Regions from separate parts of the Homo sapiens genome. Here region 2 is linked to region 1. Evidence: fine-mapped expression QTL. Tissue or cell type: testis. Region 1 holds a variant in brackets; the other region holds the start of a gene. All regions are shown on one strand. Distances are between the middles of the regions.

Region 1 (10,641 bases):
CTGGGCACAGTGGCTCATGCCTATAATCCCAGAACTTTAGGAGGCTGAAGCATTTGAGACCAGAAGTTTGAGATCAGCCTGGGCAACATGGCAAAACCCCATATCTACCAAAATAAACATACAAAACTTAACTGGGCCTGGTGGCACCCACCTGCGGTCCTAGCTACTCAGGAGGCTGAGGTGGGAGGATCGCTTGAGCTTGGGAGGCTGAGCCTACAGTGTTCCATGTTTGTTACACTGAACATCAGCCTGGACAACAGAGCCAGACCTTATCTCAAAAAAAAAAAGACATACACGTGGCGAATAAATATGAAAAAATAAAAATGCTCAACATCACTAATAATCAGAGAAATGCAAATCCAAACCACAATGAGATACCATCTCACACCAGTCAGAATGGCAATTATTAAAAAGTCAAAAAACAACAGATGCTGGCAAGGCTGCAAAGAAAAAGGGATGCTTTTACATTGTTGATGGGAATGTAAATTAGTTCAGCCACTGTGGAAAGCAATTTGGAGAATTCTCAAAGAACTTAAAACAGAAATACCATTTGACCTAGCAATCCCATTACTGGATATATATCCAAAAGAAAATAAGTCATCCTGCCAAAAGGATACACACACTGATATGTTCATTGCAGCACTATTCACAATAATAAAGATACGGAATCAACCTAGGTGTTTATCAACAGTGTACTGGGTAAAGAAAATGTAGTACATTTATACCATGGAATACTATGCATCCATAAAAAAGGACAAAATCATGTCCTTTGCAGCAACATAGATGCAACTGTAAGGCATTATCCTAAGCAAATTAATTCAGGAACATAAAACCAAATACTGCATATTCTCACTTATAAGTGGGAGCTAAACATTAAGTACTCATGGACATAAAGATGGCAAAAATAGACACTGGGCACTACTAGAGGGGGAAGGGAGGGAGGAGAGCAAGAGTTGAAAAACTAACTATTGGGTACTATGCTCAGTACCTGGGTCATGGAATCAAGTGTATCTCAAAGCTCAGCATCATGCAATATACCCATGTAACAAAACCTGCACATGTACCTTCTGAATCTAAAATAAAAGTTGAAATTTAAAAAAATACAGTATTTGCAGAATTTGAAACCTGCCTACACTGAGGGCTGACTCTTTGTATAAGCAGGTTCCACAGGGCTGACTGCAGGACTTAGTATGCACAGTTTTACCAATCCCCATGTGTACAAAGGGATGATTGTAATCTCATGCTTTGCCTCTATTTCAGTGTTGACATTTGAATCATTGATTAGGAGTTGTACTCAGTGTCAAATGTGTTACACATCCAAGTACCTTTCATAACCCAACAATTAACTGCATGACTTGAAGAAGCCACTGAGCATTAACTACAACGTTTCTGAACACAGCTTCAAATTTTCACCCATAAAATGAGTAAAAACACCCATCTCACAGGTTGGGTGGGACAGTCTGGTGAGCTCAATCAGGGGAGTGCTTAGCATGGTGGCTGGTGGAGAATAAGGACTAAATAAATAGAAGTGAAAGAAAAACTAAGCAAGAGTTTCTATTAGGGACAATATCAGGCATGAGGATCAAGTTAAGAATTTCACATCTCAAAGGGGAGCTTTTTTGCTTAGTCAGGTGACCCAAGGACCTCCTGCCAATGCCCTATCCATATCACCCTATGGCTCTGTTACTCCTTTTCTTGTGAGGTCTGATGTCTACTCTCTGCATTTGCAGACTCGTGGGTTTGGGAGGTACCTCCATGATGATGGAGTTAAGCCCTCAAAGCTCTGTGCTTGCTGTGTCCCCCAGGTGTCTGTTTAGAGAAGCACTTCCTCCTGGGGGGAACCCGGAGGGCTTCCAAGGCTGCTGAGCCATTCTCCTCTGTTCATTTTCCATTACTGCAAAATTCACACACTCTCCCTGCTTATAAAAAGTAGTGGCATTTTTGCCAGTCCTCATATTCTGCAGTATCCAACTCTATTGATTCTTTTTTCTTTTCTTTCTTTCTTTTTCTTAAAAGAAGGATAGTCTGTTTCCTTCTTTCAGGAATACTCAGTGTTACTAATAGGACAAGAGTTCCTTAGCATTCCAGAGAGAGAAAAGGGCAGAGTCAGTTGCCTGTTTCTTTTCTTAGTTCCTTGAAAAATAGATGAGCCATCTTTCTTTTCTGTCACTTAGTGGGAAAGGACTCTCATAAATACATTTTTTTTTCCTAGAGATAGTGAGAAGTGACAGGCAACTCACATCTTTATTTGCCTGAAAACATGCAAATGCAAACATGTGACCCACTAGCTGATAGAGGCTACAGGATTTTCCTCTTTTCCTGAGCCTGGTATGAAGCCAAAACACCATTCCAGCCTGTCAAAATCAAAAGGCAAAATTCTTTGGCTGTAAGAGGCAGAGGGAGTCCAGCCACACTCGCTAGCTTAGCATAGATATGCAATACACAAAGGAAGACAGCAGAGAGATGAATCATACAAATACGTAGTAAATAAATATATTTTATTTTCATCTCAGTAGCTTTTGCTTTTTTTTTTCTCTTCCATGCTAGGAGGTGGGGGTGGGGTGGGGTGTGTGAGGAAATAGTAGGTTTTGGCTGGATACAGCTTCAATAAGGTCTTGATAGTTCTGGCCTTGTTGCTCAGCTCTAGCTTTTTAAGAAAAAAAGTGTAGATTCTTAGATTAGAAGGCTTTCTTTTATTATTATTATTATTATTTTTTGAGACAGAGTCTCACTCTGTCGCCCAGGCTGGAGTGCAGTGGTGTGATCTCGGCTCACTGCAACCTCTGCCTCCCAGGTTCAAGCAATTCTCCTGCCTCAGCCTCTTGAGTAGCTGGGATTACAGGCCCACACCACCACACCTGGCTAATTTTTGTGTTTTTAGTAGAGACGGGGTTTCATCATGTTGGTCAGGCTGGTCTCGAACTCCTGACCTCGTGATCCACCTGCCTCTGCCTCCCAAAGTGCTGGGATTACAGGCATGGAACACGGTGCCTGGCCGATTAGAAGGCTTTCTAATTCAACCCCTCTCATCATACAGATGAGCAGTCTGAGATGCAGAGAGGGGACTGATAACAAAGTCATAGACCCAGGGAAGTGACTGTTCATAGGGGTTCTCTGGTTCAACAGCCCTATGCGATGCTGGAATAACCTAGACAGGCCAAGCTGACAAGAGGGCAGGAGAGTGAGTCTGGAACCAAGATATGCCCTCCCAGGTCACAGCGCTACATTGAAGAGAAACAGACTGTGCCTTCTTGAATTTCGGACTGCATTCTCAGTAGCTGAGGCCCTACCTGGCAGCAAAATATCTGGTCCTGGCTCTGCAAGCAGTTGTTGCCTCTGGCATGTTAGAGCCCTTGGCCAAAGGGCTGTTCCTGTCTTCTTGTTCTCAAGGATAGCTAACCAGCCTGCAGGTACATAGAGAAACCAGCCCTGGGCCCACCGGGCTGCAGGCACTCGGGAGCTGGATCTTTCACAATCTCCAGACCCAAAGGTGGCTTGGCGATTATTTGTTTATCAAACTGCGGCTTCCCAGCCCACTGCCTGCCCACACCCACCTACCCTCCCGCCTGCCCACAGGCCAGCCTCCCTGCTCTTCCCACCTCTGGGACAGGCAGGGCCCTCCATGGTTTTCCAGATGTGTGCAGGGAGTTCTCCTCAGAGCCCCCACAGTCAGACAATGGCCACACACTGCTTCCTAGGCCTTCCCAGGCAGTGCTAGAAGGAGACGAGCAGCCTTCCCAGGAGAGGCGGCCGGCGCCGCTGATAAAATATTGGCAAAATTATCACGAAAAGCCAGAGTCATGAAGCTATCCCTCTGCCAAGGAGCACGGAAAGCACCAAAAAAGAGCCTGGGGGTCATGTGTCCAGAGATGCCAGGCTTCCTTCCTCTTTCCAGGCAGCCCGAGCGCAGGCTCCCTCACCTCCCGCCCCCACCCCTGTTCCCATGGCAAAGGAGAGGAGGATCCACTTACTGCTAGTGTTCATGGTGATGTCTTTGCACTGGGTCTTTCATTCAATACGGAGGCCCCGGCTGCTTTTTAAATCTTCCGTTCTTCGAACCTCACTCATCACCTGGGGGGTGAAAAGGCAGTCCAGTGCCAGCTCTGTATCCTCAGGTGCTCTCTCTCCCTCTGCTGTCCCCTCTCTGTCTGGGCTGTAGCCCCTGGCCTTGAAGGCGCGTGGACTAATAGGCGCAGGTGAGAGCAAGGAGAAGGAGGCGGCAGGACACCGGCGCCCCGGTCCTCCTGCTCCTCAGATTGGAATCCCGGGCAGAAGTGGGGTTGGCAGCGCCTGCTCGCGCGCACCCCGGACTATTCCTGCCCAGCGGCTCCGGAGCCCAAAGGGGGTGTGGACCACAGGGAGGCAGGGCGGGGGCAGCGCGTCCCCGCCCGGCTTCAAGGAGCAGCGACCCGCCCCGGAACCCACCTCTCGGCCAGTGTCGGGAGCCAGAGGCCCCTGCCCCGGCCCCTGCGACTGATTTCATGAATCCTGGTCCTCGTCTGGGGTCTCGAATTCCAGGGCTAGCAATGCGAAATAGGGGAGCTCGACATCCATGATGCGGGCTCGCGGGTTGGCAGCGCAGGGGGCGCGGCCGCTCGCTGCTGCCACCTGCTGGACGCACCGGCGCGTGTCCGAGGCCCCGCCCCGCCGGGCTTCTGCCTGGGCCCTAGGGTGTGATGGGAGATGGACGAGGCCTTGTGAGATGGACGAGGCCTTGTGTCCTGGGACCAACGAGGGAGTGCTTGAGCGCTTGTTTTCCCTCCCTCGATCCTGGGGTTCTAAGGGCTCGACAATGATAGGAAAAGAAACATCATTAGGAGGGGCCGTGAAGGAAAACCTGGCTTTGCAGGAAGACAGTTTCCACCCGGCTCTGCTCTGGCAAGCTTGGCGCAGTCTAGGCTCAAGCCGGTCACTACCGTCTCTGCCTCATCTTTCTCAACTATGAATATGGCGTCTGGACAAGTGGATAACAC[G/A]TAAGGGGCTCTTCCAGCCTCCCAGCGTTTATGTCCCCTCTTCCCTCACAGATTCCCTTTATCCTCTATCGCTGATTCATCATTAGAATTGTTTATTACCTCTTTTCCCCACGAGAATGTTAGCTCCGTGAAAGAATGGGTCTGTCCGTAGGGTTCACCTACAGGCCCCCAATACCTAGCACAGGGCCCGGCATATAGTGGCTACCAATAAATATTTGTTGACAGAGCAACCCAGACATTTTCTGGGTTTAATATTACACAGCCCTAAGAGTAGACTGCCTAGGCGCCCCACCCTGAAACACTTCCCCGTCTGAGGAGAACAGCAGGTATGTGGCCTCACAGGTCCACCCTAGTTTTCATATGGTCAACTAACTCTTCCCCCAAGTTGTTGTTGTTTTTTTTTTTTTTTTTGTAATTATGTCTTATACGTGTGTATTGTAGAAGTTTATATTCCAAAGTGTTTTAGTCACAATTGATTCAGTGGGGTAGGGCTCTTTACATTCCTGTGACTACTTACTCTGTCACTTTCTGAACCTAATTCATGATCATAGAAGCATGACTTTTGAGTGCTGAAAAACAAGACTGTGAGGGCACATGATCCTTGTCTATAGCATGACTTCAATTAGAGCATGTGCAGACTCAAAAGGCTGTGAACACTCACAGCCCCAGCTTAGACAAGGAAACAGGGTGTCAGAGAGGCTGGGCAACGTGCCCTAAGACACACAGCATCTTGTGGCAGAATCGGACCAGATCTTCTCACTTCTAGCTTGATCCTGTGTGAGAGTGGCTCAGTGCACTAAAGTCTGGGATATCAGTGTGAGATTAGATAGCTGCCCTATTAAAATTGGGGAAAGACAAATACGATGTTTTTATACAATGCTTTTAGATAAATACAACGTTTCTACCTTACACAGGGAGGAAAAAAAGGATATGGCTCATGACCCCGAGAGGTGATCAGGATTAAAGAATCTTTGGATAAACCTAAGGATCAATAGATTTGAAACACATTTGATAGATTGTTAAGAATTTTGTCCACATGTTCTCACTCATAAGTGGGAGTTGAACAATAAGAGCACATGGACACAGGGAGGGGAACATCACACACTGGGGCTTGTTGTGGGATAGGGGACTGGGGGAGGGATAGCATTAGGAGAAATACCTAATGTAAATGATGAGTTGATGGGTGCAGCAAACCAACATGGCACATGTATACCTAGGTAACAAACCTGCACGTTGTGCACATGTACCCTAGAACTTAAAGTATAATAATAATTTTTTAAAAAAGAATTTTGTCCAATGGGGTGGAGGTAAAAATAGCCCTAATGTCCTCACGGTCGTTCTTAAAATTTTGTGTCGATAACAAACGCCTGAGATACCTCCAAAAATGCAGATTCCCAGGCCCTGGACTCCCTTGCTCAGCATTTGAAACAAGCATCCCAGGTGATTCATAGACAGCTCTTTGAAAAGGGTAGAGGCCTAAAATAGCTTTGAAAACGTAAGTGATTAGTAAATATTTAAATTATTCCACTTTATGTGTCCTCTACATTTTCAGATGGGATTCCTTGTTCAGTTTCCAAGTTGCAGGTAACTTGCTAGATTCTAATGCTTGGAAAAACATTTTTCTGGGAGAAAGTTCAGATAAATTAGACATGTAAAATTAACTGTTCTATTCCATGAGCATATTTAGTTATCACCCAAGGCCTCAATGTTCAGAAAATTTCAAATTATAAGAAATAGTCAAATGAAAGCATGATATTCATTCATTAGTTCATTCACTCAGCAATTATTTATCGAGGGTATGCTTTGTGGTAGCCCCAGTGCTGGCTTCTGGGGATACCGTGGAGAACAGGACAGACAAGAGCTCTACCCAATAATGGATGATTGCAGAAAAAATAAAAAATAAAGAAATAAAAAGAACTCCAACCTCATAAGCATAAATCCAATCCTGGGACAGCGGGGAGACAATTAACTAAGCAAAATATAAATTAGCTAAACCCGATGGTGGCCTGGGGAAGAGCCCAGGTGCCGTTTCCAGCCTTCCTGACTTTTAATCTCAGCTTCATCACTTTCTAGCTGTCTCACTTTGGGGAAGATACTTAGCCTCTATAAGCCTCAAAGTTTTCATCTGTACAAGGGTACAACCACAGTGCCTACCTTTTGGATTGTCGTATATATTAAAGGACTTAGTGTAATGCATGACAAATAAAGGCTGGTTGCATACTAATTATTAATATCACCCCTCACTTATACCTGCCCTCAGTGACAATGCTGTCATTTTCTACTTATGGAAATCTGTTGGGCTTTTCCACAGAGTGGTGGCCACGAAAATATGCCTGAAAATTTTCAGGTGATTAATTAATTGATAAATTAATTGATGAATTAATGAATTAATTATTCATCAATTAATGAGATTAATTGATGAATTCTTCTTGTCTGGGGTTCTTTTCGATAATGTATCCAGCTAGATGCTGATGACTTCACCTCTTAGAAGAGATCACTGGGTCTTGGGCCACTTTTTAAGGCCCAAATAACATCTGCCGGGGGAACAATCTTATTTTCTCTGCATAGTTTATAAGGATAGGAAAAAAGGGGCTAAAATAAGCTATACAAGCTATGCCCTTGAGGATGTCCACAACAATCAGAGGCAGCGGGAAAGACGCAGGAGGAAGCTGGGGGTGGGATTCTCTGTGGACATGGCTGTGAAAGTCATCAGGGGATCGGTGTTGTTGACTCTGTCCTTGCAGGAGAATGGAGCTGAGAACCACAGAGCAGAGGATCCCTTTGTCTGGAAGTTTGTTTTGAACATTAAGACTCCAGAATGGAGATAAACAAATCTCACCGGGAAACTGGCAAAGGCTCTGGGTGTTGAAAAACCATGTGGCAAAATCATTGGGAGACAAACCTTCCAACTTCTCTGAGGGGAAAAAGGAAAGGTTTTGGGGCCAGCTTCACCCATGGCCATGGCCTTGCACCTCAGGGGCTGTTGCTGGGCTGCCGTTACTGGGCTCTTCTTCACCACAAAGAGCTCCCATCTTTCCTGACTCCCTGTCCCTAACTGGGGTCATCTCAAGCTCTCCTCCTCACTTTCTGCTCCCTGCCTCCCATTGCTGTTATTGACCAAGGCAACTCTTGGCCCCTGACTTTTCTCTCTGGTTGCCTTTCTCTCATTCCCGTCCCATTGCATCTCTGCCTCCTCCTCATCCTGCTCCTGTTCATTTACAAATAAATGCTCACTCACCCTCATCTTGAATACAAAGTCCTTTTAGTCTATAAGGTGTGGGAATGGTGGGGAGGGTGCTTGTAGTCTCATAGTTTCTACTTGCCATCCCTAGACTATCTGAATATCTTACCAAAGGTGACTATTTCTTTTCTTAGTTTTGAAAAATAATATGTTATGGTTAACAACATGAGAAAGATCTATGTATAATTGTGGGGGAGGGTTTTCATAGTATGTGATTAAATAAAAAGAAAATTACAGAAAATAGATACAGTATGTTCTTTAGGGTATTGTATATGTGATGGCAAATGCTGTTGAAGGATTAGACTGGATAATTTCTTCAGTTCCTTTCGCTCTAGTGTTCTTGGTTCTAAGCATAGAGCGGTTGAACCAAGTTTGAAGTTTGGCAGATCTGACCACATTCTCGGTTGGGGTAGGGACTTTTGTTCCCCAAGGGACACCACTGGTTTGTGCTGAGCCCCAGGCCCTGAACACAGAACAGACTTCCCACAGGGAGTGGTGCTTTGTATGAAGCTCTCTGAGCTTCTGTCCCCCTTTCCTCTCTTGGGGATCTCTGAAACCTAGGTAGAATTGATAGGATTTAGACCTGTTTTTCTGGTTGAAATAGCTTTGTGACTGGGCCATGCTTTTCCTCTTGTTCCTCACATTGTTTTGTGGGGAAATGTTAAGGAAAACAAAACCAAAATCAAAGTGGCTCCCAACATCTTTGGGAAGTTTCTTGGGGAAACAAAGGAACTGGCTTTGAGATCAGAGTGCCGGAGGCTACAGCATGGGCTCCAGGGGGGCTCCATGCAGATGGCCCCACCATAGGATTCTTCTGAGGCCTCACACTCACATGTGGCCACAGCCCAAACCTCCTTCCTGATGGTCATTCTTCCAGCAGAAGGAAGGAGCTGAGGTGGAGGCAGCTCTGGATAGGAATTTGGGAGATCTGAAAACTGGACTCAGTGCTGCCATTCCCTTGGCTAACCTTCTCTGGGCTGTTTTTTATTTTATTGGTAGAACCATCTAAAAAAGATGTCAGGGAACATTCTATCCTACGTTCCATTTTACAGATTAGGCATAGAGGGGCTTCACTCTGCTCCTGGGAGCTCCCTTGACCATTGAAAGCTTGTCCATTGCCAGGTTTTGTGGGTTACTCATTATCGACCCACATTTTCTCTTCAGCTTCAGTTCTCCTGCTTGTAGTGCCCACCTCCTCTGTTTCCCTTGAATAAAGCTGGTTATTTCCTCAAGATTCCTTTAAGTTCCATCTTCTTGACTCTGTCCTCAGAGCTCCTCTAGCACTGACTACCCAGGTCAAGCATTGAGAAGGCTCACTCTATCCCATGCCCCTACCCTATCCCCCTTTGGTTTCCTGAGCAGAGGAAATTCGCTGACCTTCCCGTGAATTTGTTCATCTTGGGAACCTTGTACTCACTGCTTCCTATACCTGGTTTGCTCTTTTGATTCTTTACACAGCTGGAACCTTGTTATGCTCTAGATATTACCTTAGTTGCCTCTGCTCTAGGAAAACCTTCCCTTCCATGACCAGTCTAGCTAAATCATCCCTAACAGCATCTTTCATTAATCCATGGAGTAAAAGCCTTTCAGACAACATGGACTTATTTATTTCAGTTTGGAGTTCAGCTAATTAACTCCCATGCCCCCTTCCCCAATGTTTGGTCCTCTTCCCTCTTTATTTCCTTGGCTCTTTGAGACCTAAATTCTGTCTCTGAATATGGTCTTCCAGTAAATGCTTTAGAATCTGCTGAGGATGCATGTCTCTTCTAGTTATTAATAATTACAAATGGGTTCACAGCCACACAACAGTGAAGTCCATTGTTGCCCTGTGCAAGAGAAAAGAACTGGGAATCAGAACATCTGGGCTCTAGTTTGCCCTCACTTCCTAGCTAGGTGACCTTGGGCAATCAATTCATTCTTTGTTTCAATCTACTAAGCTGTAATGAATAATAATATTCACTGCACATTGTTATATGTTATAATTATCCCTTCATGGAATATATCTCAGGATTGTTCAAGGAATGTCATGAGAAACTGTGTGCTTTGTAAACTAAAGTCTGTGCAGAGTAGGTTGTGGTTACATCTCATTATAAATTATGGGTTCAGGTTCAGGCATTTATACAGCATTTATACAAGGTGACATCATATCCCCTAATATCCAGAAAGGGCATGGAAAAGGAAAGGCAGAAGTCAGTGGCTATGTGTGTGCTAGTCATTTCCCCATTGACCTCTGTACAGTACGTTCTACTGCCTGGAGTGGAACACTGTGATCTTGATGTGTTGCAACCCACAGCAATGCCCTCCTGCAAGTGCCCTATAACCTTGGAATGGGAATCAAACCTCGACTTGGGAGAGAACCCCACAGGTTTGATACCCCAAATCATAGAGTTGTAGGAGGCAAGAACTGTAAGAGTTCTTAGCGTTCAT
Region 2 (9,225 bases), 77 kb after region 1:
CTTGCTTCTAGCCTCACAGGCTGGCTGTCTTTGCTCATCCCTAGGTGTAGGCCAAGCTAACCATGGGAGGAACTTAGTTTGTAGTCTAACTTTGAAGCAAGGATGATAACAGTCCCTCTCTAAAACGAATTCCCTTGTTGTTTGGGGGCTGAAACTGCCTTTGTAAGGCTAATGAAAAGCCATAAGATTAAGATTATGGGAGGGACCTGAATTCTGCTAAAATGTAGATATAGTTTCTATAATCCCTTATTGTTCAGGAGTCATGTGGTCAGAGGTCACAAGATTTGTGACTTCCCCAATTGCTTCTGTAGGTAACACCACTATTGTAGAACCTAAAATTGGTCTTTTGAGATGTCTTTCAGACTTTTACATTCTGGCAACTGACTGAGCCCACCCAGACTCATTACTCATGACTTCACCTGTCCTGTGTTTCCCATCTAGAAACAAACTCAGTGCATGAGGACTATTTTCCACATTCCTATGATTGCACCCCCAACCAATCAGCAGCACCCAACCCCTCCCTGCCTGCCCACCAAACTATCCTTGAAAAACCCTAAACTCTGAGTCTTCAGGGAGATTGACTGGAGTGATAACCCTGGTTGTTCTGCATGGCTGGCCTCACATTAATGAAAGGTTTTCTCTGCTGCAATACCAGTCTCAGTGAACTGGTTTTGTCTGTGCAGCAGGCAGAAAGAATCCATTAGGCAATTACAGTGGGATCAGCTGCCACTTATCTCCTGGCCAGTTCACTCATTTCTATCAGCTGCGTGGCTCTTGTAGCCATATGAGCTTGTAACCCCTGAACACCAAACAAATATTAAGGGAATAACAGGTATTCCATAATGATGGCAATGATGGTGATGGTGGTGAGTTGAAGGTGGGTTGGAGCTCCACTTTTTTTTTTTTTTTACCGTATACTCTTGAAGCTTTCTCAATCTAGCTTTTATCTCCACTGCTCCACCAAGATGTCCAGTGGTAAATTCTCTGTGCACATCTTACTTATTAGCAGCATTTGACATAGTTAATCACCTTCTGCTCTTGAAACACTTTCTTCACTTGAATTCTGTACCATCTTATGCTCTTGGTGCATATCGTCTCACTGGCCACTATTTCTCTATCGCTTTTGCTGGTTTCTACTCCTTTCTTATTCATATAAAAATTAATGTGCTTGTAGGGCTCATTCTTGATATATCCTCTGTATTCTATCCTCCACTTTCTGCCTTAAGAGATCTTGCTTGGTCTTCTAACTTTACATACCCTCTACACAGTGACAACTCCCAAATACTTACCTTCAGCTTTTAACTTCTCCATGAACTCCAGATTGCTTTGTCTACATTTGCTTGGATATACTAAAGGACTATTAAATATTACATATACAAAACCAAACTCCTGGTTTCAATTCACAAAGCTTCTTTTCTCCTAGCATTTAACATTTCAATAATTATTAAATTATTTCAGTTGTTCAGATAAAAAAAATCAGAACTACTCTAAAGTAGATTTTTTTTTTTCCTCTCATACATTCAATGTATCAACACATCCTCATGGGTCTCTGTGATGGTTAATTTCATGTGTTCTCTTGGCTAGGTTATGGTGGCCAGTTGTTTGACCAAAGAACAAAATAGATGTTGAAGGTATTTTTTTTTAAAGATAATTAACATTGACATCAGTAGACAGTGAACAAAGCAGATTACCCTCTCTAATGTGCATGGGTCTTCCCACTAGCTGACTGGGGGCCTTCCAATCAGTTGAAGGCCTTAAGACTGAAGACTGAAGTTTCCTGAAAAAGAAGAAATTCTTCTCAAGAATTCTTGACTGCAACATGGGAAACTTATATGAGTCTCTAGTCTGCTGCTCTGTGGAATTTTGACTAAAGACTGCAATAGCAACTCTTACTTGAGTCTCCAGACTGCTGGCCTGCCCTATGGATTTCAGATTTGCCAACCCTCACAGGAGCCAATTTGTTAATTTTTTTTTTTCTCAACTTTTATTGGTCCTGTTTCTCTGGAGTACCTTGACTAATACACCCTTATTTCAAAATGTGTCTAATACCTAAACCCTTTTCATCACCTCTACCAATAGCACTTTGGTTCAAGACATTATCATCTCTCTGCTGGATGTTACAATTGCTGCATATCTGGAGTTCCATCTATAGCCCATGAGCCAGGCTGACCCTTTAAAACCGTAAGTCATGCATGTTACTCTTCTCTTTAGTGTCCTCCATTGGCTCTTACCTCATTCAGAGTAAAAACTGGAGTCCTTAGATGACCTCTAAGGCCCTACACTGTTTGGTCTCCTGCTGCTTTCTCTGACTTCATCTCTGTGCCCTCACCTACCTCACTAGCCTTCAGCCACACTTCCTTTAACATGCTAAGCAAGTTCCTACTTCAGGGCCTTTGCTCCTGCTGGAAGTCTCTTTGCTCTAGTCAATTCATCAGGCTACCCAGGAGCAGAACAGCACAGTTTCTTGCATCTCAAGGGAAGCAATGACTTTATCCAGAATGGACTATTCATTTAAGACCTGCTGCAATGTGTGTGTTAGCCAACTGCCTAGGGTGTCATCTCTGACACATGGCCTGGGATCCTTTCAATAGTTGATTTTGATCATTTATAGTCTGATTGTTGTTGTACCTGTGTAAGAGTGGTTGGTGTGCAGACCAGCCAAGGAGCAATGATAAGTCTGCGCATCTGTCAGCGTGTGTAAGTTAGAGCATGGGGCTTCTTGTCACTGCCTGACTTTCAAGTACATCCCAGTTTTAAGTGGCTGTTTTCTAAAGAAACTCTTGTCCTTTCATTGTGGGCCCAAGAAAACATTTGAATTCATATTCAAAAACACTGTACTTCAGTAAGGGAAACACATGAGAAACGTATGGGAAGTAGATACTTTAAATAGACCTGCACAGAGAAAACATCCTCCCCGGTGGCAATGTGATCAGAGAGACCCCATCCCTCCTGCGCTCTACTCCCTGCCCCAGCTCTCATCTCCTGGGCTTTGTGTAAATGGTTAGCTGGCTCCAGAGGTTTCAGTCCTTCCTAGGCCTTTCTCATTGTGTGTCCTAGTAGTCATGGGAGAACCCACAATGTATCCCATGTATCAGAAACGTGATTCTTCTGGGCTGTGGAATCAACTAGACCTTGCTCAGTCTTGACTCTGACATTCATAAATGGTGGGAGAAGGGAGGGAGTTGGACAAGTTATACACTCCTCTTTATCCGTTTCCTCACTTACAAAGTAGAAATGATGCCTACATTATGGGGCTGTTATGGGATTTGAATAGAATAATGTACAGTGAGAGCCTGGCCCACAGTAAACATTCAGTAACTGTGTCTCAGGATGAGTCAGGATGGAGACGGGAGCAGTGCTTCAGAGACAGGCTCAAGACCCTGTCCTCTGGGGCTAGGCTGGTGTGTGAGGTGGATACTCCTGATCTCTGGTGGGACTGACCCCTAGGCCATTCTTCACCTGGTCACCCAAGTGCTCCTCTCAGAATATAAACTTGATCAGGCCACTGCCGTCCTAAAAATGCTGGTGATACTGACCTCAAGTTCAGCCTCCAAATAGCCTGCAACATAGGCCTGGCAGGACCTTCTCTTGGCTCACACCTCCTGTTCTTTGGGCCTCTCACCAGGGTCCTTTCACCACTTTGCTCTAGTCATGAAGGAAACATTGGGTGAGCAGTGCTCTTTGAGCTTGGTTGTTAGAGCAGTCATGCTTCCGTCCTACCTTGCTGGCATTCAGCCATATTTTCTCCATCTCCTTTGCAAGATCTCATGGGAGGTTTTCTGAAATTTAGCCACAGTGTCAACTGGATTCCCCTGCTCCACTGCCTATCTGAAACAGGAAAGAGGTTAGTCTTGTGGGACCAGTTTTGCTTGCATACCTGTAGACTTGCTGTATTTTTTCTTTTAGTTTTATTTTTAATTGACACATAATAATTCTACACATTTATGGGCTAGAATGTGATGTTTCAATATATCTATGTATTGTGTAATGAACAAATCAAGGTAATTATCATATCCATCATCTCAAACATCATTGTTTTTTTGTGGTGAGAACATTCAAAATCCTCTCTTCTATGTTGAAATATACAATACGTTATTAACTGTAGTCCCCCTACTGTGCAATAGAACACTAGAACTTACTCCTCCTATGTAACTCTAACCTTTTACCTATTGACCAACCTCTCCCCATCCTTTGATGTATTTGGTTCTCCATCCCCTCACCTGTAAAATGCTGGGCTTCATCAGGTGATCTCCTGGATTCTTTTCCTGCACACCAGCAGCTGGGGGTTTGCATGTTCCCCAGTGAGGAGCTGGCTCATTGATGCTGCTAGGTCCAAGTGAAATGCTGCACCCACAGCTCCAACTTTATCAGAGAGCCAAGGGAGGCCTTTGCAGAGAGAGACTGGGTGGAGATCACTGTAAAGGGGTGGCAGGCCAGTCAGTGTGGGCCAAGTCAGTCGGGGAGGGAGCAAGAAGAGCAGTCTTGATCTCTGGGATGTTCTCTGCCCTCCTCCCCAGCCCTGGCTGCCCTCACAAGAACCAAACTGTGTATCTCAATCCTAGAATGCGAGGAATGTGCTGCAGGCTGATAGGCATGAAGCGATCTGCTGAGAGGCAGGGAGGAGCCCTGTTCCCCAGGCCTGACAGTGCAGGAGCTGTGGGCCTGCAGGCTGGGCTGGGCTGCCCCTCCCACCCTCCCTGGGCCTCCTGCTGTAGCCGGGATATCAAAGGCTGCATTGTGCATTGAGCAGGCCTCGGTCCCTCGTGTGCCAGGGAGGAGGCGGGAGGAGGGACACCGTTGGGAGGCTGTCCCTTGCAGCACTCTTCTGGCCTGTGTTCCCAAGGGCCTCGGCCAGGGTAGGATGGTACACACATGGGTGGCTGCTTCTGCATCCCCAGGGAGCGGAGTCTGACCCGGGGCCCAGGTGAGTTTCCCAGGGGGCCCTTGGCCTGTGGCTTGGCCAAAGTGGATGGTCCAGTAGAGGCTCAGGGACCTGCTGGGTTGGAGAAACTTTTCTCCCAAAGATGGGGAGATGATTGTGCTTTCTGGCTGCCTCTCCTTCCTCCCTGGGTAAGTGTTTGTCATGCTGGCTCTGTAAAAAGGGAGCAAAGCCTGGAAGCATCTATTTTTTCCTGAAGAAAGAGCCTTTGAGTTTACTCTGTCAGGAGCTGAGCAGCACTGCTCCTGGCTGCCACTCCCAGGGTGTGACTAAGCCCTTCCTTCCTTTCTTCCCGAGATCCCCCCAGGACAGGAAGAAAGTTCAGGCAGTGAGTTCCTCTGTGGCCTATGGGTGGCCATAAACTTGGCCTTAGTCATTCAAGCCTATTTTTGTCAGGGTTGCTGTTACTGGAGAAAAACAGGCAGTTTCCTGCCTCCACCTATTACAGAGTGATTTGTGTGTGAGTGCATGTGTGAGTGTGTGCATCAAGTTGAGGCAATGGAGAGTTGTTGCTCTAAGAAATTGTCAACTCATGGGAGAGTGACTTAGGGTGACCAGCCATTATGGTTTGCCTGGGACTGAGGAATTTGCTGGGATATGTCAGTTCCAGGCCAACCAGGCTGGTTGGTCTCCCTGAAGCAACCTTCTTGCTTTTTTTCAGAGGAGAATCAAGGTAGGGCCCTGTGTTCTCTTGTGTGGTGTTTATCAGGATGAGTGGTGGCTTTGGGGAAATGTGGGGTTAGATTGGTGGGGGGAGGCTTGCTTGGGAGATAGGGGAACATTGCTCCAAGGAATCATTCCTAACCCTTGTTAGAACTCTGTGTCTTCCTGGAGCTCCACCATGGTTCCTGAGAGAAGGAGCTAAGGAGCATCCCCTAGCTGAGGGCTTTCTACTCTCTGACAGACAACTTTCTTCTTTAGTCTTATGACTTGGGCTTGTAGAAGGCACTTGAGGTCATTAAAGTGAACCCAAAACAACCATATTCTGCTTCCTCTGCTTGAAGTCTTGATCTAGGCACCTTGGCACCTACAGCAGGGAGTGTCCCCCCAAATGATGCCCTTGGCACAAAAGGCACGACTTTAGCTATGAACAATTTCGCTTCTCCAGATTTCTCAGATGTAAACACTTTTCAGTCCCTCCCCCTAAGTCCTATTGTCATTGTGCCCCATGAGAGTAGAAACAGCATGGAGGGAGACGTGCAGGACCACTGGTCGGAGATCGGGGTTCTAGATCTGACTTCCTCTAGCTCTAGTTATGCAGTTGTCATCTTGGCTACTCACTTGGTCTTTGAGGCCAAAGTGTCTGGATTTTATCTTGGTTCTTTTACTTGCCTCGACAACTTATTTAACTTCTCTGTGTTTCAGTTTCCTTATCTGTAGCTTTTATGACATGATTATGTCTTCTTCATAGAGCTGTGGTGGAGATTAAGTCTACATGTGAAATGGTGAAACAGTCTGGTGCACAGTTAGTTGAGCACAATAAAATTCACCATTGTTAATTCCATTTTGATGACCCCAGTATAACTCGCGCTCTCCCTGGGCCTCCATTTAATCATATATACAATTTTAGGGTTGTAAACTGCTGTGTAGAGGTGCCTCAGAGAGCTCTGCTCATGTTCCCTCATTCCTACCTAGAGCGGCTCTGCTTCTAGTTGACATCGTCCTTCAGCCAAAGATTTCCTGTAGAACAGAGTTACGCAGCTGAAAACAAACAAACAAACAAACAAAATATTGAAAAAGGTCAAAATCATAATAACACTATCATTCAATTACTTTATTCTTTCACCTTCTTTTTGCCATTGATTACTGGCTGGCACCCCGCATTCACCTTTTCACCAAGAGTTAGCCTGCTATGTATCTCCCTCGAGACTTTTCATGCCATTCCCCCATATTATTCCCTGTATGTGTCAGGGCCTTTCCCTAGCGAGGTTGATATTGGTGTTGTAGGTCCAAGTCCAGTCGATCTGGATATTCCCATTCCAGATTCCCCTATTTATCCTAGAGAAAAGGAACAAAGTATGAGACCCATCCTGGAGCAACTTAATAGTTGTGTGACCTTGGGCAAGTCCCTCATGTTTTTTGAACCTCAGTTTTCCTGGCTGTAAACTGTATCTAATGGTGGTACTTATCCCATGGAACTTTTGTGAGGATTAAATTTAATAATTCCTCTCATGGACTTAGCACAAGGTCTGGCTTTTGATAACCCTTCAGTAACTACAGGCTGTTTTATCGTTAGTTAATATGGGCCACTCCTACATCACTTCCTCCTAATTCCTTACTGGTCTGGAGAAGTCTGTACTTATGTTTCCTGGGGTGCTTCTGCCTTGTGTCTGTTTAAGTGAGAGTTAACAGCAGACACCAAAACAGTGAGTCCTCAGGGCTAATGGACACAGGAAAGGAGAAGGCTCTTGATAGCACTGAGCACTGGACAGCTGCCAGACTAGTTTGTGTGGAGTGACACAATAATGAACGTTGACTCTGACTACTCCAGGCACCTGCATTCTTACATGTGGACTCTGCCTGCAGCATCTGTTCCCTGGGATGGCTCTCAACTGCTCACAGAACTCCCCTAATCAGGGGGGACTGCACATGGTGAGAGGATAGGTTCTGATCAGTTGCTATCATCTCTGACTTCCCCACCCTATCTATGAGTTGTTTCTTGCCATTGCTTAATAAGCTACAGTTGCTCACTTTGGATCACAGAGAAAGCCATGTCAAAGTTTGTTGATCAAAAAACTTCTAGCACTTCACCCTTATTTTCAATGCCTGTTTGAAGAAATTTGGCAGATTTATGCCCTTAAATAGAAGATGTGGAAGAGATACATTCGCCTCTGTTGATCACTGGTGCTTGTAACTTTCCTTTCAACCTTTTTGATAAATGTGAATCATCAGTATAATAACAGGAGATCAAGGGTGAATGCTGATAATAGTAAATGATGCTTCACTTTTGAATTTTAAATGACTTGTAAAGCATTTAAAACTACTGATAATAGAGGATATTAGAATAGTTAGCCCACCATCTAGCTGTAACAAATTTTTGCATTATGCCATGTTATCTTCAGAACTTTACCTTTTTCTTTCTCTTACTTTTTGAAGAAATAAAACATCATAAACATACTTAGGGGCCCCTGGATATCTCTTTCCAATCTCATTCTCCTTCTCTCTCCATGTAGTTAATAACTTTCATGAATTCAATGGTTATGTGCTTTCACTACATATTCATGAACTCACAATCATTCCAAAGAATTGTTTTGCAGACTTTAAAACTTAAACAAAATGATATCATGATGCAACTTTTTTTTTTTTTTTGCTAAACATTATCATCTAAGATATATTCATGTGGGTAGATGTAGCTGTACTTCTAACATGCTATTCGTCCCAACAAGGAGAAAGTGGGTTTACATCATAAAAACTGCTGATGGTAGGTCTGTTAGGTCAAAAAAGAAAAGAAAATGTGGGTACAGGAAAAAAAAAACATGCAGATAAATGTTTACTGTTTAGTCTTCTTTTTAAAGTTGAGCATGGTGGTGGGTGGGTAGGAGCAAAGAGAGGCTGAGAGAGGAGAAATGAAGGTGAATTCTCATTTTCGGCAAGTTGTTGTGAGATGTTTCCCTGATCAGAGGCCCGAGACTTTAGAGTTCTGAGGTCAGGTTAATGTAGAGAAAATGGCAAGGTCCCTACCCATTCCTACCCATTGATTTGGATGGCCTCTGGCGCTTTTGTTAATTTGCTGTGTGATCTCAGTAAAATCATGACTCCTCTCTGGGCCTTTAGTTTCTCAACAGTAAAATTGGGAGTGGAGCTAGGTGATCTTTTAAATCCCTTCCTTCATTCATTTTCTGCAATTCTTGCCTCTTCCCCATGTTTATCCCTCATATTCAATATGTCAAGATGCCTTCTCTTTTCTTGTTTAAAAATATAGCCTCATTCACTCTATGCCCTCACTTCTCATTGCCAGGGCCACAGCCCACATTCTTACACTCACCTCCCTGGATTTTCACAGCACCTCTTCAGCTGGTCTCTCTGCCTATTGTGCTTTTCTCTCCTTATCCTTCCCAGGTTACCCAAGTAGAATTTTCACTTTTGTTATGCCATTGCCATGCTCAAGAATATTTCACACCTCACCATCGCTTACTGTATCCATTCTAAACACCCCTGCCTGCCTTAAAGTGCTCTGCCATCTTGAACCTACCATACTTATCCATTTTAGTCCCACAACTACCCACCTCCCCAGCATGCGCAGGCTGGCTTCTAGCATCCCATGTATGTACAAAGCTCATTCCCAC

Alleles and levels. Alleles are on the strand shown, and positions count from the first base shown. SD is a standard deviation of normalised expression in the study named.
As copies of G replace A in region 1, the expression in testis of the gene that starts at base 4,833 in region 2 goes up (moderate effect, 0.41 SD a copy in GTEx).

Evidence for each region. PIP is the estimated chance that this variant, and not a neighbour inherited with it, causes the effect.
Region 2: it holds the start of SH3TC2, and the variant in region 1 is fine-mapped to the expression of SH3TC2 in testis (GTEx, PIP above 0.99).

The regions. Positions count from the first base shown.
Region 1 is chr5:149,135,439-149,146,079 of GRCh38, reverse strand. It overlaps ABLIM3 (actin binding LIM protein family member 3), which reads right to left and starts at 4,587. Exons shown (of 24, transcript NM_014945.5): 1 at 4,426-4,587; 2 at 3,972-4,071. The coding sequence starts at 3,984. LOC124901102 (a long non-coding RNA gene) reads right to left here and starts at 3,964. Exons shown (of 2, transcript XR_007058988.1): 1 at 3,291-3,964; 2 at 2,482-2,647. RefSeq lists enhancers at 1-88, 3,165-3,664, 3,665-4,166 and a silencer at 4,472-4,721. The variant G/A (reference allele first, on the strand shown) is at 4,974.
Region 2 is chr5:149,058,670-149,067,894 of GRCh38, reverse strand. SH3TC2 (SH3 domain and tetratricopeptide repeats 2) reads left to right here and starts at 4,833. Exons shown (of 17, transcript NM_024577.4): 1 at 4,833-4,924. The coding sequence starts at 4,873. It overlaps MIR584 (microRNA 584), which reads left to right and starts at 5,486; the gene lies at 5,486-5,582. It overlaps SH3TC2-DT (SH3TC2 divergent transcript), which reads right to left and starts at 4,578. Exons shown (of 3, transcript NR_122044.1): 1 at 4,221-4,578; 2 at 3,537-3,645. RefSeq lists a silencer at 4,575-4,869.